Homo sapiens: one gene and its partners. The protein of the gene in region 3 purifies or fractionates together with the protein of the main gene of each other region. This does not show direct contact. Each region holds a gene or a part of one and is shown on either strand. Other genes may lie near its edges.

Region 1 (7,000 bases), about 52 Mb from region 3:
ACATTAACTATATAAATATTAGCATAATACATATATAAGATTTTAATATATATGTTTAACATATATAGGTATATATGTGTTTAATGCATATATACATATATGTATGTGTGTATATATTTGTTATATAGTGAAATATATATTTGTTATATATTGAAATATATATATTTGTTATATACATACATACATACATGTTATATACACACATACATACACACACACACACAATAGGAAACTCCTAATCTGGTACAGAGATAAATATATTCTGCCAAAAAGAATGCTATGACAAACTGGCATTTATTAAAATGGGCTCTTTACCAGTAATTATTCTTGAATCAAAGAATGACACTTTGTTATCTGCTCTACCAAATAATGTCCACCTGAGAGCCAACTTTAAGCTTGGCCTGGTGTCCTACGTGTCTGCAAAAAACCCTCACATTTTCTAATTACTTCACAGCTTATAAATGAAACAGACTCTTCAGAAACCTATGCAGCTATATGTGCACCAGAACTTCATCACCCTGGGGGAGGAACCGCAAAAACTCAGCCCTATAATAGAAGGCACTGTCCTATGAATAAGCTAAAAATTAATTCTGTATCTGCATTTTAAAAAGGACACACTACCTCAAGTAAGATTTGTTATTTTCTCATTTTACAGCAAGAAGTTTTTTTTTTTTCTTTATGATAGTCCATCAAAAATGAATAGAGATCAAGTGGTCATTCTAACATTTGGACCAAAGCCAGGTCAGATCTGAAGGCAATGCAGAAAGGAGGCAGGAATGTGGGCCACACACCTGAAACACTAGGTCATTATCCTCCTTATAACATACCAGAAGGTAGTTCCCTGCCCAAAAGATAAACTCCAGACTCAGCTTAAGAAGCACAGCCCTTAAAATTTTAACCTCAGCCAACCTTTCCTCCTTTATTTAGTAAGAAAAATTATAGCTATTAACCTATTCTTATTGTTCCATAATATCAGTCTCTTATTGTATAAGCTACAATCAGTTCGGAATTGCTGCTGAGTTCCAAAGAGCCTGTAAGTGTCCAAGGCACTCCACAAACCAAGCAGTTGTCAAAAGGGATTTCAGTAAACACTACTCTCTAGATACCTTTCCAAAGGATTAACACTATGAGTCAGAAAATAGTTACCATTAACTACAGTGGTGGGATCGAATTTAACAACGTAATAATCCCTAAAGGAAAACACACTGCCTCCTTCTCATCTGTCGCTAGTCCATATGAAAAGTAGCAACGTCTGGTGGACAAGGGCAGCCTCAGAATGGGCTCTGGGGGACGGCACAGATTCCCACACACTGGACTTCCTCTGACTGGCTGATGGCAGGGATCCTGGCTTTAGGCGTGAGTATCTTTCTTTCTTTGCATCTTCCTACAATTTACAGTTTTTGTATAAATACAATGACTTATTTATTTATTTATTTTTTTTTTTTTTGAGATGGAGTCTCTTGCTTTGTTGCCCAGGCTGCAGTGCAGTGGCACGGTCTCGGCTCACTGCAACCTCTGCCTCCCAGGTTCAAGTGCTTCTCCTGTCTCAGCCTCCTGAGTAGCTGTGATTACAGGCAGCCGCCATCATGCCTGGCTAATTTTTTGTATTTTTAGTAAAGATGGGGTTTCACTGTGTTGGCCAGGCTGGTCTCGAACTCCTGACCTCAGGTGATCTGCCCACCTCGGCCTTCCAAAGTGCTGGGATTACAGGTGTGAGCCACCATGCCTGGCCTACAATGATGTTTTTCAAGTTTCTATTTTGCCATTTTAATATAGAACTTTTATAGAAAAAAAAATGTTTCTCTGAGAAGCAGTTTCTCAATTAACCTGGATAAACATATCTACTAAGACCATGAAGCCATAGACAGATAGCAATGTCCATCACAGGGGAAAACTGAACACAGTGGCGTGCTGTATAATGACATTTCCATTAACAACAGACAGCATCTACAACAGTGGTCCCATAAGGTTATAATGGAGTTGAACAATTCCTATCACCTAGTGACAATCTAACTGTTGGAACATTGTAGCAAAATGCATCACTCATGTGTGGTGTTGCTGGCGTACACTAACCTACTGCAGTGCCAGTCGTTGAAAAGTCTAGCACATTCAATTACATACAGTATGTAGTACTTGATATAATAATAAATGACTATGTTACTGGTTTATGTATTTACTCCACTACACTTTTTATCATTATTTTAGAGCGTACACCTACTTATGCAGGAAAAAATAAGTTAATTGTAAAACAGTCCTTCAGGAGGACTCCAGAAGAAGAAATTGTTATCACAGACAACAGCTCCACACATGTTACTGCCCCCGAAGACCTTCCAGTGGGACAAGATGTGGAGGTGGATGACAGGGATAAGGATGATCCTGACCCTGTGCAGGCCAAGGCTAATGTGTGTGTGTTTGTGTCTTCATTTTTAACCAAAAAGTTTAAAGAAAAAAAAAGAAAGAAAAAACTTATAGAATAAGCATATAAAGAAAATATTTTTGTACAGCTATACAACATGTTTTCAGCTACATGTTATTACAAAGAGTGAAAAACTTTTAAAGAAGTTTATAAAGTCAAAAAGTTACAGTAAGCTCATTTATTACTGAAGAGAAGTATTTTTAGAATAAATTTAGTGTAGCCTAAGTGTACAATATTTACAAAGTCTATGGTACTGTACAGTAATGTTTTAGGCCTTCACTTTCACTTGCCACTTACTCACTGACTCACCCAGAGAAACTTCCAGTCCTGCGAGCTCCATTCACAGTAAGTGCCCCATACAGGTGGACCCTTTTTTTAGTATTTTATACAGTATTTCTACTATCCCTTTTCTGTGTTTAGATGTGTTCAGATACACACATACTTTGGTGTTACAAGATTCTCTTGTGCTTAGAGATTCAGGACAGTAGCATGCTGTATAGGTTTGCACCCTAGGAACAATAGGCCATACCCATATAGCTTAGGGTATGAAGCTATACAGGTGTATAATACACTGTACCATCCAGGTTTGTGTAATTCACTCTATGATGTTCATATGATGACAAAATTGCCCCATGGGAGATTTCTCAGACCATAACCTAGTCATTAACTGATGCATGACTGTATATCATATATTAGCTCTAAAAACCAAACCTATAAGTGAACTGACAAAAGTTGCCATAGATCCTAACAGCCTTTGAGACGGATGGGGGGCAGACAGAGCTTGGCACACTTCAGCCGTTCACAGCTCCCAATCAACCAGTCAGGATGCTGGTGCCATATAATTAGGAGAGAAAGCTAAATCACCGAGGACTCAGCCAAAAGCAAACCATGGTGGTGAGGAGGAAGGTGAAGGAAAAGGGTGGTATGCAACACAGTGGGACACCTTGCCTTATTCCCCATGTTTTTTGAGGCTGGTCCTGAGAAGTTTAAGAGAGAAAGACTCAGAAGCATGCATTGGAGGCCAGTTTTCTTGTGGTCCCAGTGATGGTGGCTCTTGTGACGCCTGGATGAGGAGGGAGAGCCTGGAAAAGTCAGGTGGTGACTTCAGTAGAGGGGGCGGGGGGATGTGCTGACACCCACCTCTGGCTTTGTCAGCTTCCTGAAACAGAAACAGCGTGGGCAGCTGCCAAGGGACCTGCTGCTCAGCCTCTATCTCTGCGACCCCTTGGGACTCAGTGCAAACTCAGACCTTCCTATCTCCCTTTGGCACAGGCACCAACCTCATGCCCATTCTTCCTCTCCTGACCATCATATCGTGGGTATTGAGCAGGACAGGCAGGTATGACTGGACACTTTTTTTTGCAGGCAGCAGGGAGTGAAGGCTTGAAAACCTCTATTTCCCATGCTGCATTCCTGACTGAATGAAGAGCCAAATCACAGCCTCAAAATTCTATATTGGGTGAGAAAAGGCAAACCTTGCCAGCAATATTCTCCCACTGCAAGCTACCTTCAGATGCAGTGTTTGTGCTAAATGAGTGAAATGAGATGTCAACAAAAGTCCCTACTAGAAAACAAACTGCCAAACACCTCCAATTCCCATGGGGGGTTTGATAGGCTCTCTGACAATCACTGAAGTCCCATCTGAAAAATGCATTTTGGTAGGTTTACGGGTTGACTTAAAGTCTTGAGATACTGATGTGGTTTTCTTAAATGTGTTGTTTCTATAGATTGTGAAGGTGATTGTCAGAGAGCATCTCGAATCCCCCATGGGAATTGGAGGAGTTTAGATAAATCCAAACTGAGGGATGGTCTACAAAATCTCTCACACCCTTTCAAGTGTGTTAAGGTCACGAAAAAAGAGGAAAGGCTGAGGAACTGTCACAGATTAGAAGCCAAGAATAAGTGACAATTAAATGCAAAGTGGGGAAACTGGATCAGAAAAAGGATCCTGGAACAGAAAAAAGACATTAAGCAGAAAAACGGGTGAAATTCAAATACTGTGTGCACTTTATAGTGGTATACTAGCACTAATTGATTCATTTTGATCATTATACTACAGCCATACAAGACGTTAACAAAAGAGGAAGCTGGGTAAAGTGTATTCATGAATTCTGCACTATTTTGCAACTCTTAGGTAAGTCCAAAATTACTTCAAATTTTAAAATGAAAATGTAATCGTGGTATATTGGGTAATTATCTCACCTTAGAGTGATCAAGAAATAGAAAAGAAACCTGGGAATCTCCTTTTCTAGCAGGAAAGGAAACAGTCATAAGACTGTGTCAGTGACTAAAAAGGACAAGCATGAACCAATACCCATCAGTCCAGCCCAGGACTGCGCTAGCACACTCTGGGCTACTGGAGCCTTTTTTATTGAGCCACTTTTAGAGGTGATTTTTCTCCAGCCAAGTGTCCTCGCTTAAAATTACAAGCATGAATAATACCCATAAGTTAAAAGTTTTTTTTTCCTTCTGAAAATGCATTTCAGAGGAGAGTTTGGGAGTTTTACTCATTTGGAGTCTTTCCCCTGACAGAGGGGCTGAGATTGGGTTGGGGTGAATGTGAGCTGACTCCTGCTGTGTTCAGAATTGGATATACCATGAGCTTTGGGAGAAGCAGTTAAGTGGGGGACTCTGAGGGTGGACACTCAGGCTGGGAAGGAGCACAGCCCCTCAGTAATAAGGATCAAGGCCCCAGAGCGAAACTGGGCCACCCCGGCAGTGAACTGTGGTAAATGTGGGCACGCTGCATAGCAGACATTCCCGACATTAATCTGGGAATCCTGAGCTCTGCTTGTTGCTTGGTCACTTCCTGATGATCTTAGGCAACTCACTAAGAGGCTTTGTCTGGGCCTGTGTTCTCTATAAAACAGAAATTTGGACTGGGCTGTGTGCTTCTCCTATACCATTCTCCAGCTACTTCTGGATGAAGAGGAAGGGAATGGAGGTCTTGAAAGGTGGAAGAGTCATGCTGGTAAGTAGAGAGCTGGGATTCCAACCCAGGTAGTCAGCTCCAAAGCACACATCCTTAATCAGATGCCACACTGGCTCCCAAGGCCAATGCTGCCCCAAGCCTGGATGATGGATGGCACCCATAGGCTGCAGCCCTGGCTGACACCCTGACTGCCCCCTCAGGAGAGCCCCAAAACTGGGTTTGGTGGGATACTGCACACTCGATATAGCATTATCCTTTCGTTCTTACCTTGACGCTGAGAGGTGGACATTATTATGGAGATACAGAGATCTTAGGTGGCTTGCTCAAGGTTACCTGGCTACAAGGTGATGAAACAGGGCTTTGACCCTAGTTTTTGTTCGTGACTCCAAGGCCATATTCTTATTGATTGAGGGGAACAAGTATGATTTCAGATCCTCTCCTAGAATTCAGTTCTGAACAAAGCAACAACTCTCAGCAGGAGGCCACTATGGTACTTAGAGTGGCATGCTGCTGCAGTTCCTGAGGAGTCTTTGCTATTGCTTCCCCACCGTGAGTCTAGAAGAGGAATCCTGTGGCTCTATCTGCTTGCTGAAATTCAGACACAGAATAGTATGTTGACACAGTTCTCTACTAACATAGTAATCTACCAAAACAGGATACACATTTATGTGACAGCAACTGCTTTTCCTGAGCTGCACCCCATGCTGGTCCCGTGTTCTTCTCTAAGTCCCACAGCCATCTGTTGAATGACTCAATCTTGAAATTTGTCAGGAATCAACAATAAATTTACTGGCTTGTACAAAAGTCAACTTTTCCCCCCTTTGAAAATGAAGATACTGCTTGACAACCATTTTATGTTATCTTTTGCACTCATGCAACAGAGACAGCAAGATTAGTTATAGTGCAATGAACCTGCTCTGATAATCTGCAAGAGTATCTAAAAAAAGAGGATTAAAAAAAGACAGTTAAGGTCTAATATCTAACTTGTCATCTTAATATTATCATGATGTATATTTAATATATGTAACTATTCATAGTTGGTATCCTTTTTACTGGGCAATACTAATCAAAATTATTTAAATACATATAAACATATATTTATATACACACACATATATACACATACTATATATGGTGTGTGTATACATACATATGCATAAGGGTGTATGTGTGTGTGTATGTACATATATATAATATACATCCTATAAGAGTACCATCAGCAGTTAGAATTAAAAGGGTTTAGGAAGAGAAGTGGGAGGTAGAAGAAGAGCAGAATAGAAATATGGCATTTACTTCATAACATCTTCCTCAATACTGAACCTTCAAACAGCCACAAAAAATTATCGAGTACTGGCCAGGAGCAGTGGCTCATGCCTATAATCCCAGCACTTCGGGAGGCCGAGGCAGATGGATTGCTTGAGCTTAGGAGTTCAAAACCAACCTGGGCAACATGGTGAAACTCTGTCTCTATAGAAGAATACAAAAATTAGCCGGGCATGGTGGCATGTGCCTATAGCCCCAACTACTTGGGAGGCTAAAGTGGAAGGATCACTTGAGCCTGGAAGATGGAGGTTGCAGTGAGCCGAGAACACGACACTGTACTGTAGCCTGGGTGACAGGGTGAGACCCTGTCTCAAAAAAAGAAAAAAAAA
Region 2 (7,000 bases), on a different chromosome or scaffold from region 3:
GGCCATTCTTACATTACTATAAATACCTGAGGCTCAGTAACTTATAAAGAAAAGAGGTTTAATGGGTTCACAGTTCCACAGGCTGTATAGGAAGCATGATGCCGACATCTGCTCGGCTTCTGGGGAGGCCTCAGGAGCATTTTTTTTTTTAATGGAGTCTCTCTCTGTCACCCAGGCTGAGGTGCAGTGGCATGATCTTGGCTCACTGCAACCTCCACCTCCTGGGTTCAAGCAATTCTCTCACCTGAGCCTCCAGAGTAGCTGGGATTACGGGTGGGCAGCATCATGCTCAGCTAATTTTTTTTTTTATTTTTGTAAAGACTGAGTCTCATTATGTTGCCCAGGCTGGTCTCCAACTTCTGGGCTGACATGAACTTCCCACCTTGGCCCTCCTCCCACCTTTTTTTTTTTTTTTTTTGAGACAGAGTCTCGCTCTGTCGCCCAGGCTGGAGCGCAACGGCACGATCTTGGCTCACTGCAACCTCTGCTTCCCGAGTTCAAGTGATTCTCCTGCCTTAGCCTCCTGAGTAGCTGGGATTACAGGTGCTCGCCACCATGCCTGGCTAAAATATTTTTGTATTTTTAGTGGAGATGGGGTTTCACCATGTTGGCCAGGCTGGTCTCAAACTCCTGACCTCAGGTGATCCACCTGCCTCGGCCTCCCAAAGCGCTGGGATTATAAGCGTGAGCCACTGTGCCCAGCACCCCACCCCCCGCCCCTGTTTTTTTGAGACAGAGTTTGGCTGTGTCACCCAGGCTGGAGTGCAGTGTGATCTCAGCTCACTGCAACCTCCGCCTCCGAGGTTCAAGCAATTCTCCCACTTCAGCCTCCCAAGTAGCTGGGACTATAGGTGTGTGCCACCACACCTAGCTGATTTTTGTATTTTTAGTAGAGATGAGGTTTCACCATGTTGCCCTGGCTGGTCTCACACTCCTGACCTCTAGTGATCTGCCCACCTCGGCCTCCCAAAGTGCTGGGATTACAGGTGTGAACCACCGCACCAGCCCCGCCTCAGCCTCTTAACTTGTATTTATTAAACGCTTACTATATGGTATTGCTCTAGGAACTTTTCTAGTATGAACTCACTTAGTTCTCATGATAACCAATAAGCCAGGTACTATTATCATACCCCCATTATACAGAAGGAGAAACTGAGGCACAGAGCATCTCAGAACTCTGCCCAAGCCTACCCAGCTAGTAAGTGGCAGAGCTGCTTCTGGTCTGACAGACATTGCTTTTCACCACCTCGCCTTGCCCCACTGGCTAGCAGTGCCTTCCCCTGTCCTGGGCTACCCTTCCTCACCCCTCCCCTGCACCTGGGTAACCTCAGCCTCTCCTTCATGCGCCCGCTGACCTGTGAACTTGCACTGCTGTAGGAAGCCCTGGAGGAAGGGCGAGTCCGAGAAGAGCATCTGCTGGAGCCGCTCAGCGCCCACATGGAAGACAGAGTTGATGAGGAGGCGGCCGGAGAGGTCGGGAAGCAGGGCAGCCAAGTCCGCTGGAGACAGAGGAGAGCCGAGGATGATGACTGCCTCCACTCCTCCCTCCCTCTGCGGGCCACGCCTCCCCACTCCCAGGCCTTGTAGTGTGCATGGGCGGACCCCACCTCCTGGAGCACAGCTGGACACTGACACAGAGCCCTCCTGTGACTCAGGGATGGGTTGAGGGTGGGCACGTGCTCCAGGCCCAGACAGACAGCCACTGTGCTTGGTTCTGGGTGGAGAACACACCTAGGCCCTGAGATTTAAATCACAGGGATTCATTACCAGATAGCACGCCTCCTGGGAGCATCAACCTAGGGGCACAGCAATTGGTTCAGGGGTGAGTGGGTGGCCCAGGTCTATCCGATCAACCACAGTGATTGGTTCAGGGGCAGGCACACTCTCAAGTTGGCCCAATCAGAGCCAACCCTAGGGTGTCCGCTGTAGACACTAGGAAAAATAGGCTGCTCTCTCTCATTGGGCTGGTCTGGGGCAGGGCTGAGGCCATCTCTGCCCCATAAGAGACAAGAATAGAGGCTAGCTGAAAATTAGTGGAGAGAGAAAATGAATACAATAATGATAATAGAAATACTAATAGTCAATGCTTACTAACTGGCCCAAGTGCTTTAAATGTATGAAATCACTTAATTCTCTCCCTTTGTTCGTTTTAGAGACAGGGTCTCGCTCTGTTGCTCAGGCCGAAGTGCAGTGGTGCAATCATAGCTCACTGCAGCCTCCAACTCCTGGGCTCAAGCGATCCTCCTGCCTCAGCCTCCCCAGTAGCTGAGACTACATAGGGTGCATGACCCCATGCCTGGCTAATTTTTAAATTTTTTGTAAAGACAGGGGTCTCACTATGTTGCCCAGGCTTGTCTCAAACTCTTGGCCTCATGTGATCCTCTTGCCTTGGTCTGCCAAGTAGCTGGTACTATAGGTGTGCACCACCACACCTAGTTTTTTCTTTTTTTTCTTTTTTGTACAAAACGGGGTCTTGCTTTGCTGCCCAGGCTGTTCTCCAACTCTTGGCCTCTAGCAATCCTTCCTACCTTGGCCTCCCAAAGTGCTGGGATTACAGGTGTGAGCCATCACACCCAGCCTCATTTATAGTCTCTTAACAACAATCCTATGAAGTGGGTATTATCATTGTTAACCCCATTTTCAGAGGAGGAAAGCAAGCTCAGAGAAGTTACATAATTTGCCCACGTGACATGGTCAGGAAGTGGTGTGACCAGGATGTGAACCGCGGCAAGCTGCCTTCAGTCTGTGCTTGTGTTCACCCTGCCATGCTGCCTTCAAAACAGAGTAAAGACAGAGATTTCTAGCAACAGCGCCTGAACGCCATCCCGCCTGCCCCTGGATTCTCAGTGCTGCGGGCGAATCCATCCCCTCTTGCTTAAGACTGAGCGAGGCTTGCAAGTACCGGAGGCGAATGAATTGGGCCCGCCTGCCTCACCTTCCTCCCCAGTGGATGAAGAGGAGTTACTTGTGTCTGTCAATAGCTCCTCACTGGGCAGCAGATCCAAGGGGCCCAGGGTGGTGGGCCCGTCAGGCTGGGTGGGCTCTGTGCTCGGGGGTTCAGCCACCGGGGTCACTGTCTGGCTGGAGGAGGCGTCTGGCTGGCTGTCTACCTGCTCCTCCTTGTCCTCCTCTGCCTGTGGAGAAAGGCCCGATGCAGCCTTGGCCACCTCCATCCCAGCCCCAGGGCTCCCAAGTCCACACTGGCCACAAGGATTCCAGAGCCTGTGCAGACCCGGGGTGGTGTGTGCACCGAGGGCTCACGGCTGAGCTGCGAGCAGCCTGGGGCCACCCAGATGAGGGCCCCTCTCAGCCCCTGCCAGGCTTGTCTCAGATGCCTGAGCCATAAGCTTTCTTACCTGTCCTGTCCGTCTGTCTGTCTGCTGCTTCATCTATCCACCCATCTCCCATCCCTTCTGTCTCTCATCCTTTCTGTCTGTCCCCTCTCTTCCCTGTCTCTCTTTCCCTGTCACATGTCCGTCTTCCCCTCCCTGTCCTGTTCCTCCATCCAGGCCTCCCCTGTCCCCCTATCCATTCCCCTCCAAATCTGTCAGGCTGTTCTTCTCCCACTGCACCCCCAGCCCTCCTCTCTCTTCCTATCAGTATCCCACCCCTCTTCCAACCCACCGCTCACCCCATGGTCTGCGTCGCTGCTGGCTCGGGAAAGGTTGGGCGTGACATGGCCACGGCGCGAACCCACTGGGCTTGGCTCCTGGCTGCGGTCAGCTGCCCCCGAGGAGGTGATGTCGCTCAGGGCGATCACATCTCCCACTTCCTTGGGGGTCCTGTGGGAAAGGGGAGGAAGCGGGACTGCTGTGTCCTTGAGACCCCATACACCCTCCTGAATCCTCCAGACGTCATACAACCATCTCAGGCCCCCCAGCACTCCAGGAACTCTGCACGCCGACCGTCCTGTTCTCCCCCGAACCCTTCAACCTCCTTTGACCTCCAACTCACCCCAGACCGTTCAGCTGCAAGGGGGAGACATAGTCCTCATCCTCACTGGTGAGGCCCAGCTCTGAGCCGTAGCACTGATGCACCAGGTGCCAGAGCTCGCGGGGACTCAGCGTCTGGGGAGGCGGGACCTGGGGTTGGCCTCCATCTCACCCCAGCCAGAGCCCGGCCCGCCAGATTCCCCACCAGCCCTCGGCCTCCGCAGTTCCCCTGGCTTCCACAAGGAGGCAGCCACGATCTCCCGCACCAGACCTGGCCTCAGCAAGCGGGGAATCCCCTGCTACAGCCCCTCCAGGGCCTGCGCCCAGGACTCAAACTTCCTGCTTCCCAAGTCCCCACAATACTCTGGCCAGAGAATGTTCCCATTTTTTTTATATCTTTTTTTGTTTGTTTTTTGGAGATGGAGTCTGGCTCTGTCGCTCAGGCTGGAGTGCAGTGGTGTGATCTCAGCTCACTGCAACCTCTCCCTCCTGGGTTCAAGCGATTCTCCTACCTCAGCTTCCCAAGGAGCTGGGATTACAGGTGCGTGCTACCACGCCCAGCTAATTTTTGCAATTTTAGTAGAGACGGGGTTTCACCATGTTGGCCAGGCTGGTCTCGAACTCCTGACCTCGTGGGCACCACGATCCGCCCGTCTTCGTCTACCAAAGTGCTGGGATTACAGGCATGAGCCACCGTGCCCAGCCATGAATGTTCCCATCTTTACAGAGCATACGGAGTCCCAGGAAGGGGAAGTCATGTAGGGAAAGTCATGTGTTCAAGGTCACCAAGTGACTTGGTCAAGCCCTGCCAGACTCCAGGGCTGAGTCTCCCATGCCTATGCCATCGTGGCCCCCCGAATCTTTTCCCAGGTGTCCTCGGGAGCCTTGAGCTTTCAGCCACCCATGGCCAGAGTGGCTGAATGACAGTGATGACAGTTAACAGTAAGTGATGATAGCAGCAGACATTTGCCACCTGGTCAACTAGGTGCATTCTTCTAACCACTTTACAGATGTACTAACTCACTGTATCTTCAAAACCATCTGGAAAGTAGGTGCTAACCTCATCATCCTTTTAAGACAATGGTGCTGAGAAGTGCAAGGTGACATGCTGGGGTCCAGCCAGGAAGTAGCAGTGCTGAGATGTGACCCCAGGGGAGCTGGTCTACAGCCGGGGGGCAGAGGGGGTGGCGAGGGAGCTAACCGCTGGGCTACTCTGCTCATAAGAGCTGACATGACTGAGTACTTATTCTGGGCAAAATTCTGGGTGCTGTGAAGTGGGGATGGCCCCCATTTGACAGATGGGGTTCAATCACTTGCCCCAGGGGATGGGGCTGGAATCCCGGGGCTCTGCCCTGTCCTCCTTAGGGCCTGACTGTGCGCTGTCCCTCTCTCAGGATGCTGAATGGGACCCTCAGCACTCCTGCCTGCTCCAGGGACATCGGAGCCTCTGAGAAGGCAGCGCGTGAGTGCCGCTCAGCCGGAGGATGGGGCTGGGGCTCTCTGAGGTGCTGTGGACCAGCCATAGCCGGCATCCTGTGATGACCTCCCAGCCTCTATCCACACTCCCCCGCTGCCAGTGGAACCTGGATGTCCTTCAGGGTGAAAATCATTCCCAGCCCCAGGGAAGAATTACGACGGTTTACACCAATTCATGTCCCTTTGCCAGAGACTCAGCTTCGGGGTCAGGTGGGGCCCAGGGAGGAGCTGCAGGGGCACTGGGCCTGGTGCCCATGGAGAAGAGCCAGGGCTGCCTCCAGCTCCGCAAGTTCTGGGGTCCCTGGCTCCATGGTCCCCCTGGAAACCCCCCATCCCCACCCGGGCCTCACCCAGGCCCACCTTTTCAAGCAGTGCATTCTGCCAGAGGCGGAAGATGAGGAGGAAGCAGCGGTCACGGGCCCCAAAGGAAGTGAAGAAATGCTGTCAGGGAGAGAGAGAGAGAGAGGTGTGAGCAGGTTGGGGAGCGACCAGGACAGAGGTGGGGAAGCGCCACCCTCATCTGCGCTGACGCCACATCTTTGGCCCCATGAATCCACTAATTCACCCCTGCATTAGTTCCACAAAACGTCTGTCCTGCGCCCGGCCCTGCCCTGGACAATTCCAGAATCACTGGGATGGGGAGACGACCCCTGGCCCTGTCCTTGGAGCTCCCAGTCCAAGGAGGGGACAGATGCATCTCTAGACAGGGTCAGCCCAGAGGGGCTGGGATGTGATGGGGGGAGCCCAGGGAACTTGCCCAGCCTCCTTTGCCACTAAGAATGGTCAGTTGATCCTTTTTTTTTTTTTTTTTTTGAGACAGGGTCTGGCTTTGTCACCCAGGCTGGAGTGCAGTGGCATGATCACGGCTCACTGCAGCCTCAACCTCCTGGGCTCAAGCCATCCTCCTGTCTCAGCCTCCTGAGTGAGTAGCTGGGACTACAGGTGCGTGCCACCACACCTGGTTAATTTTTTGCTTTTTAAGAGACAGGGTCTCACTATGTTGCCCAGGCTAGCCTCAACCTCCTGGGCTCAAGCAATCTTCCTGCCTCAGCCTCCCCAAAATGCTAGGGTTACAGGCATGAGCCACTACACCTGGCCAGATCCACTTTTAACCAACAAAACACAAAGAGAAGTCTGCTGGGAAGTGTCCCCCACACCTGTCCCCCTTCTTGTTGGACCGCTGGTGAGAAAGCCATCTTGCAACCAACGGACATGAGGCCACAATGACAGGGACAGGACACAACATCGGGGAGACTTACGAAGGGAGGGGCGGCTGAGGTGCCACATACATGGAAGAGTTTTACTATTTCTGCTGTTCCTGAGCAGCTGTGTGAGGTAACAGGTTGCAGGGAAAGAGAGGAGAGGCTGGTGCGGGGATCAGGTCAGGGGTGATGGGCGCCTGGGCCGGGAGAACAGAGAGAAGGGGACAGCTCGGAGAGAACTCAGGGTGCAGAACAAATGGGGCTTTGCATGTTTGGGGGAGGCGGCCTGCTGAGCGGGGGACCGCGTGGTCCCGTCACCGGGTCCTCCGTCACCTTCTCGCTCTCCGTGCAGATCTGGATGGCGTTGGGGATCAGCTTGGCCGTCTTTTC
Region 3 (4,519 bases):
GGTGTCTGTTAGTACTGAAAATAATTAAAAGATTTTTGTTTGAATGTTTCCTGGGATCCTTACAGGAGAAGAAGGGCCTCTAAGATGAGGTGTTCCAAGATTTCTGAGAGTAGCAGTTTATACCCAATATGATGTTTATGATTTGCCAGGAAAGGTTTTAATCCACTGACTGATATGCATTTCAAATGCAGTTACACAATGTGGGTAAGTTATTTGGAATTAACTAGTTTTTTTTTTTTTTTGAGACAGAATCTCACTCTGTCACCCAGGCTGGAGTGCAGTGGTCTGATCTTGGCTCATTGCAACATCCACCTCCCGGGTTCAAGCAAATCTTGTGCCTCAGCCTCCTGAGTTAGCTGGAACTACAGGCACGCGCCAACACACCCGGCTAATTTTTGTATTTTTAGTAGAGACAGGGTCTTGCCATGTTGCCCAGGCTTGTCTCGAACACTGACCTCAAGTGGTCCACCCACCACGACCTCCCAAAGTGCTGAGATTACAGGCGTGAACGACCACACCCAGCCTAGATTTTTAAAAAATATAATTTAGACTTGTTTCCATCTCAAATATAAACCTTTATTTAGCCAAATTTGTGAAGTTTTAAAAAGATATGTAGCATTTCTTGAAAAGATGCTCCTTATATCTAATCTTTTGCATAAATGGTTTGTATTTGTATGGAATTTGTAAGGATGGATTCCCACTGTTGAGTAATTTCTGTGATAAATGAAAAGGGAATTGAAGCTTTTCAGGTGGCTTGTAGGAACTAGAACAACCGAATTACAACTTTCCTCACACTCCTTCTGTCGCCTCCAACAACTTCTTAGGTATTTAGGAATAGAAGAAAGTCGCCTGGAGGAAGAAAAGAGAGCAGTAAACCAAGTTATTACCTCATTGTTTGAACCCTTTGTTGAGGGAAAGGAAATAATAGATGTCTTGGTTTTATTTCTATGAAGGGGAAGAATCCATTTTCTAATTCCAAATGATGAAGTTAAAAATTTTTCTGTTTAAGGAGTTGATATAATTCTGCTGGAAAAGAAAAAGTTTCCAGGCCATTGGAAATCATGCAGGGGCAGAAGCTGGTATTAGCTACTGTTCATATTTGCTTTTGGGCAGAGGAAGAGTTCATTATTTATCCTTCTTTTCCTCTGCCTTCCCACATGGCTATCCTCTTTACATTTTATTTTGTGCCTTCAATATGATAGTAAATAATAGAGCCATCAGTCAGACAGCTGTGCCTGTAGTTAGAGGGTACTCAGTACATGTAGAATGAATGAATGAGGAAATGAGTATTTCCTATGATATTATTTGCATCCCTCCTAATGGAAGAGATTAATTTATAGCAATGTTTTTCTTAACAAAATACTTTTCTAACAAAGAAAGGGGTATTTTGATGATGGTCTTGGTTTATTACTCCCTAGCTCTAGTTTGTGGACAACTTTTTATTTCTATTTATGGTTTGAAACCACTAGATTCAGGTACTTTCCATAGGTAGCTTGGGTGGTTTTTATCACCAAAGGAATTTTTGTTCTATGTCTCCAGTGCCCTGTTGGGCGTTACAGAGCTGTTAATATACACTGTTGGAGAATTTTGCTAATAGTTATGATTACATGAGAAGTTTTCACGTATTTCCTTCTAACAATTATCCTTCTTCCAATACCATGCAGGGTGTGTATTTATTGCCTTTTTCTCCCACCTGTTTTAGGACCTACCTCTAGCTTCCAGGACTGCCCTGAGGTATGAGGAAGGTGATTAGTATTTTCTTCTGTCACATTATAACCTGTGACACCCATCAATGAAACCTTGGGGCAACCTGTACTCTCTTGCTAACCGAACACAATTCTTGTCCTTGTGTGCAGGTATAGTGGAGGATTACAAGCCACCGTTCTACGATGTGGTTCCCAATGACCCAAGTTTTGAAGATATGAGGAAGGTAGTCTGTGTGGATCAACAAAGGCCAAACATACCCAACAGATGGTTCTCAGACCCGGTAAGAATGCCAGTTTCTCAGTTTTAGAGCTCTTTTCCATTGTTTGCTATTTGTTTCCCTTTGAGTTTCAACTGGTATTGCATCTGAGTGATCTGTCCCGTGGATCTGTTGTTTTCTCTTCCTATTTTATATAGAAGGGTTTAGATCTAGAAGAGTAAGTTCAGAAAAATACTCCATTCTTGAAGAAGCCATATCTCATAGGGGTTGCTAGTGAATGACAATATTTGTAAGAATTTCTGTGAATATGCAGCTTCAGGAATCGGGAGACTCATGACTACTGCTATTAGCCCTAAGACTGCATGTATAAACCAAGAGACTTTAAGTGAAGCTTTTAACCTCCTTTCCATCTCTGTATATCTGAAATCCCAAACACAAGCTGCTGGATGCTGAAGATCCTGTATTGCTACTCATAAGTAGTAGCAGGTATAAAACAATGAGAAATGACCCTATTTGGAAATTTCAGGATTATCTCTAGGTTAGTATTGCTGCTTTTGGCACCCATAAAATCATTAAGGGGTCCAATCTGGCCTATGTCGTTTACCTAATAAATTGGTAGCATTAAGAGTCCAAAGGACAGAGTTCATGAAATTCTAAGAATGGCCTCTTTATCAGTGGTTAAAGGTTGAATATTTGCTTGAAGAAGATGACAGTAACATAACTCTAATTTCACAAGACCTGCGAGTTCTTCAGAATAGTAGACATGATATCAGCCCAGCTTCCAGGGCCATTAAAAAGCCAGTTTGTCATTGTGGTGTTTGTTCTTTCTCTCCTCAGACATTAACCTCTCTGGCCAAGCTAATGAAAGAATGCTGGTATCAAAATCCATCCGCAAGACTCACAGCACTGCGTATCAAAAAGACTTTGACCAAAATTGATAATTCCCTCGACAAATTGAAAACTGACTGTTGACATTTTCATAGTGTCAAGAAGGAAGATTTGACGTTGTTGTCATTGTCCAGCTGGGACCTAATGCTGGCCTGACTGGTTGTCAGAATGGAATCCATCTGTCTCCCTCCCCAAATGGCTGCTTTGACAAGGCAGACGTCGTACCCAGCCATGTGTTGGGGAGACATCAAAACCACCCTAACCTCGCTCGATGACTGTGAACTGGGCATTTCACGAACTGTTCACACTGCAGAGACTAATGTTGGACAGACACTGTTGCAAAGGTAGGGACTGGAGGAACACAGAGAAATCCTAAAAGAGATCTGGGCATTAAGTCAGTGGCTTTGCATAGCTTTCACAAGTCTCCTAGACACTCCCCACGGGAAACTCAAGGAGGTGGTGAATTTTTAATCAGCAATATTGCCTGTGCTTCTCTTCTTTATTGCACTAGGAATTCTTTGCATTCCTTACTTGCACTGTTACTCTTAATTTTAAAGACCCAACTTGCCAAAATGTTGGCTGCGTACTCCACTGGTCTGTCTTTGGATAATAGGAATTCAATTTGGCAAAACAAAATGTAATGTCAGACTTTGCTGCATTTTACACATGTGCTGATGTTTACAATGATGCCGAACATTAGGAATTGTTTATACACAACTTTGCAAATTATTTATTACTTGTGCACTTAGTAGTTTTTACAAAACTGCTTTGTGCATATGTTAAAGCTTATTTTTATGTGGTCTTATGATTTTATTACAGAAATGTTTTTAACACTATACTCTAAAATGGACATTTTCTTTTATTATCAGTTAAAATCACATTTTAAGTGCTTCACATTTGTATGTGTGTAGACTGTAACTTTTTTTCAGTTCATATGCAGAACGTATTTAGCCATTACCCACGTGACACCACCGAATATATTACTGATTTAGAAGCAAAGATTTCAGTAGAATTTTAGTCCTGAACGCTACGGGGAAAATGCATTTTCTTCAGAATTATCCATTACGTGCATTTAAACTCTGCCAGAAAAAAATAACTATTTTGTTTTAATCTACTTTTTGTATTTAGTAGTTATTTGTATAAATTAAATAAACTGTTTTCAAGTCAAACAGTGAAATTGTTTTTCAAAATATAAAAAAGATCTGTGTAACATTATGCATTTTCTTATGGGAGCAATAGAAGCACAAAACTAATTTGTAAATTGAATTTGCTTTTTAAATCTACTCATGAACTTATGTAAGACATCATAAGGATGTCTTACAGCTTGAATTTGGTATAAGAAAATTTGTTTCTTCCTTTGGCTGTGATTTTTTTGTTTTTTTGTGTTTTTTTTTCAGTCAGTTTCTCCAGCTGTAAGGTGAGGGTAACAAATCTCTCTGACCTGCCTTTCTCACAGGGGGGTGTTGTGAGTGTAAACGGGAAGGAGGATGTTAAAGCATTTTGTTGAGTGAAAGGTTCCACGTGAGTGTAAAGTGGTCTTATGCATCCGCCCTTGCTGCTTGGGAGAGTCCGTTCTCGGTTTTTTCACTGCTTGTACACAAGATTAAAAGGTAGAGTTAACAGTAGCCCAATAAGAGAAGAGGTGTGAACATGCCGGAATGTCTTCCAGAGGTAAGTTAATAACTTCATTAGGATGTATTTACTTGG

Evidence for each region. The genes of interacting proteins can lie anywhere in the genome.
Region 1: the proteins of ACVR1 (region 3) and TGFBRAP1 purify together in Homo sapiens (co-immunoprecipitation; 5 studies listed by BioGRID and IntAct, with this or other methods). This does not show direct contact.
Region 2: the proteins of ACVR1 (region 3) and GRAMD1A purify together in Homo sapiens (affinity purification with mass spectrometry; 4 studies listed by BioGRID and IntAct, with this or other methods). This does not show direct contact.

The regions. Positions count from the first base shown.
Region 1 is NC_000002.12:105,319,736-105,326,735, forward strand, and holds part of TGFBRAP1 (transforming growth factor-beta receptor-associated protein 1), read right to left. Parts: intron 1-7,000. UniProt on the Homo sapiens protein: Plays a role in the TGF-beta/activin signaling pathway. It associates with inactive heteromeric TGF-beta and activin receptor complexes, mainly through the type II receptor, and is released upon activation of signaling.
Region 2 is NC_000019.10:35,010,323-35,017,322, reverse strand, and holds part of GRAMD1A (protein Aster-A), read right to left. Parts: coding exon 6,944-7,000; intron 5,850-6,943; coding exon 5,769-5,849; intron 4,068-5,768; coding exon 3,955-4,067; intron 3,783-3,954; coding exon 3,632-3,782; intron 3,135-3,631; coding exon 2,936-3,134; intron 1,500-2,935; coding exon 1,356-1,499; intron 1-1,355. UniProt on the Homo sapiens protein: Cholesterol transporter that mediates non-vesicular transport of cholesterol from the plasma membrane (PM) to the endoplasmic reticulum (ER).
Region 3 is NC_000002.12:157,735,908-157,740,426, reverse strand, and holds the end of ACVR1 (activin receptor type-1 precursor), read left to right. Parts: intron 1-1,856; coding exon 1,857-1,987; intron 1,988-2,761; coding exon 2,762-2,896; 3' UTR 2,897-3,981; downstream 3,982-4,519. UniProt on the Homo sapiens protein: Bone morphogenetic protein (BMP) type I receptor that is involved in a wide variety of biological processes, including bone, heart, cartilage, nervous, and reproductive system development and regulation.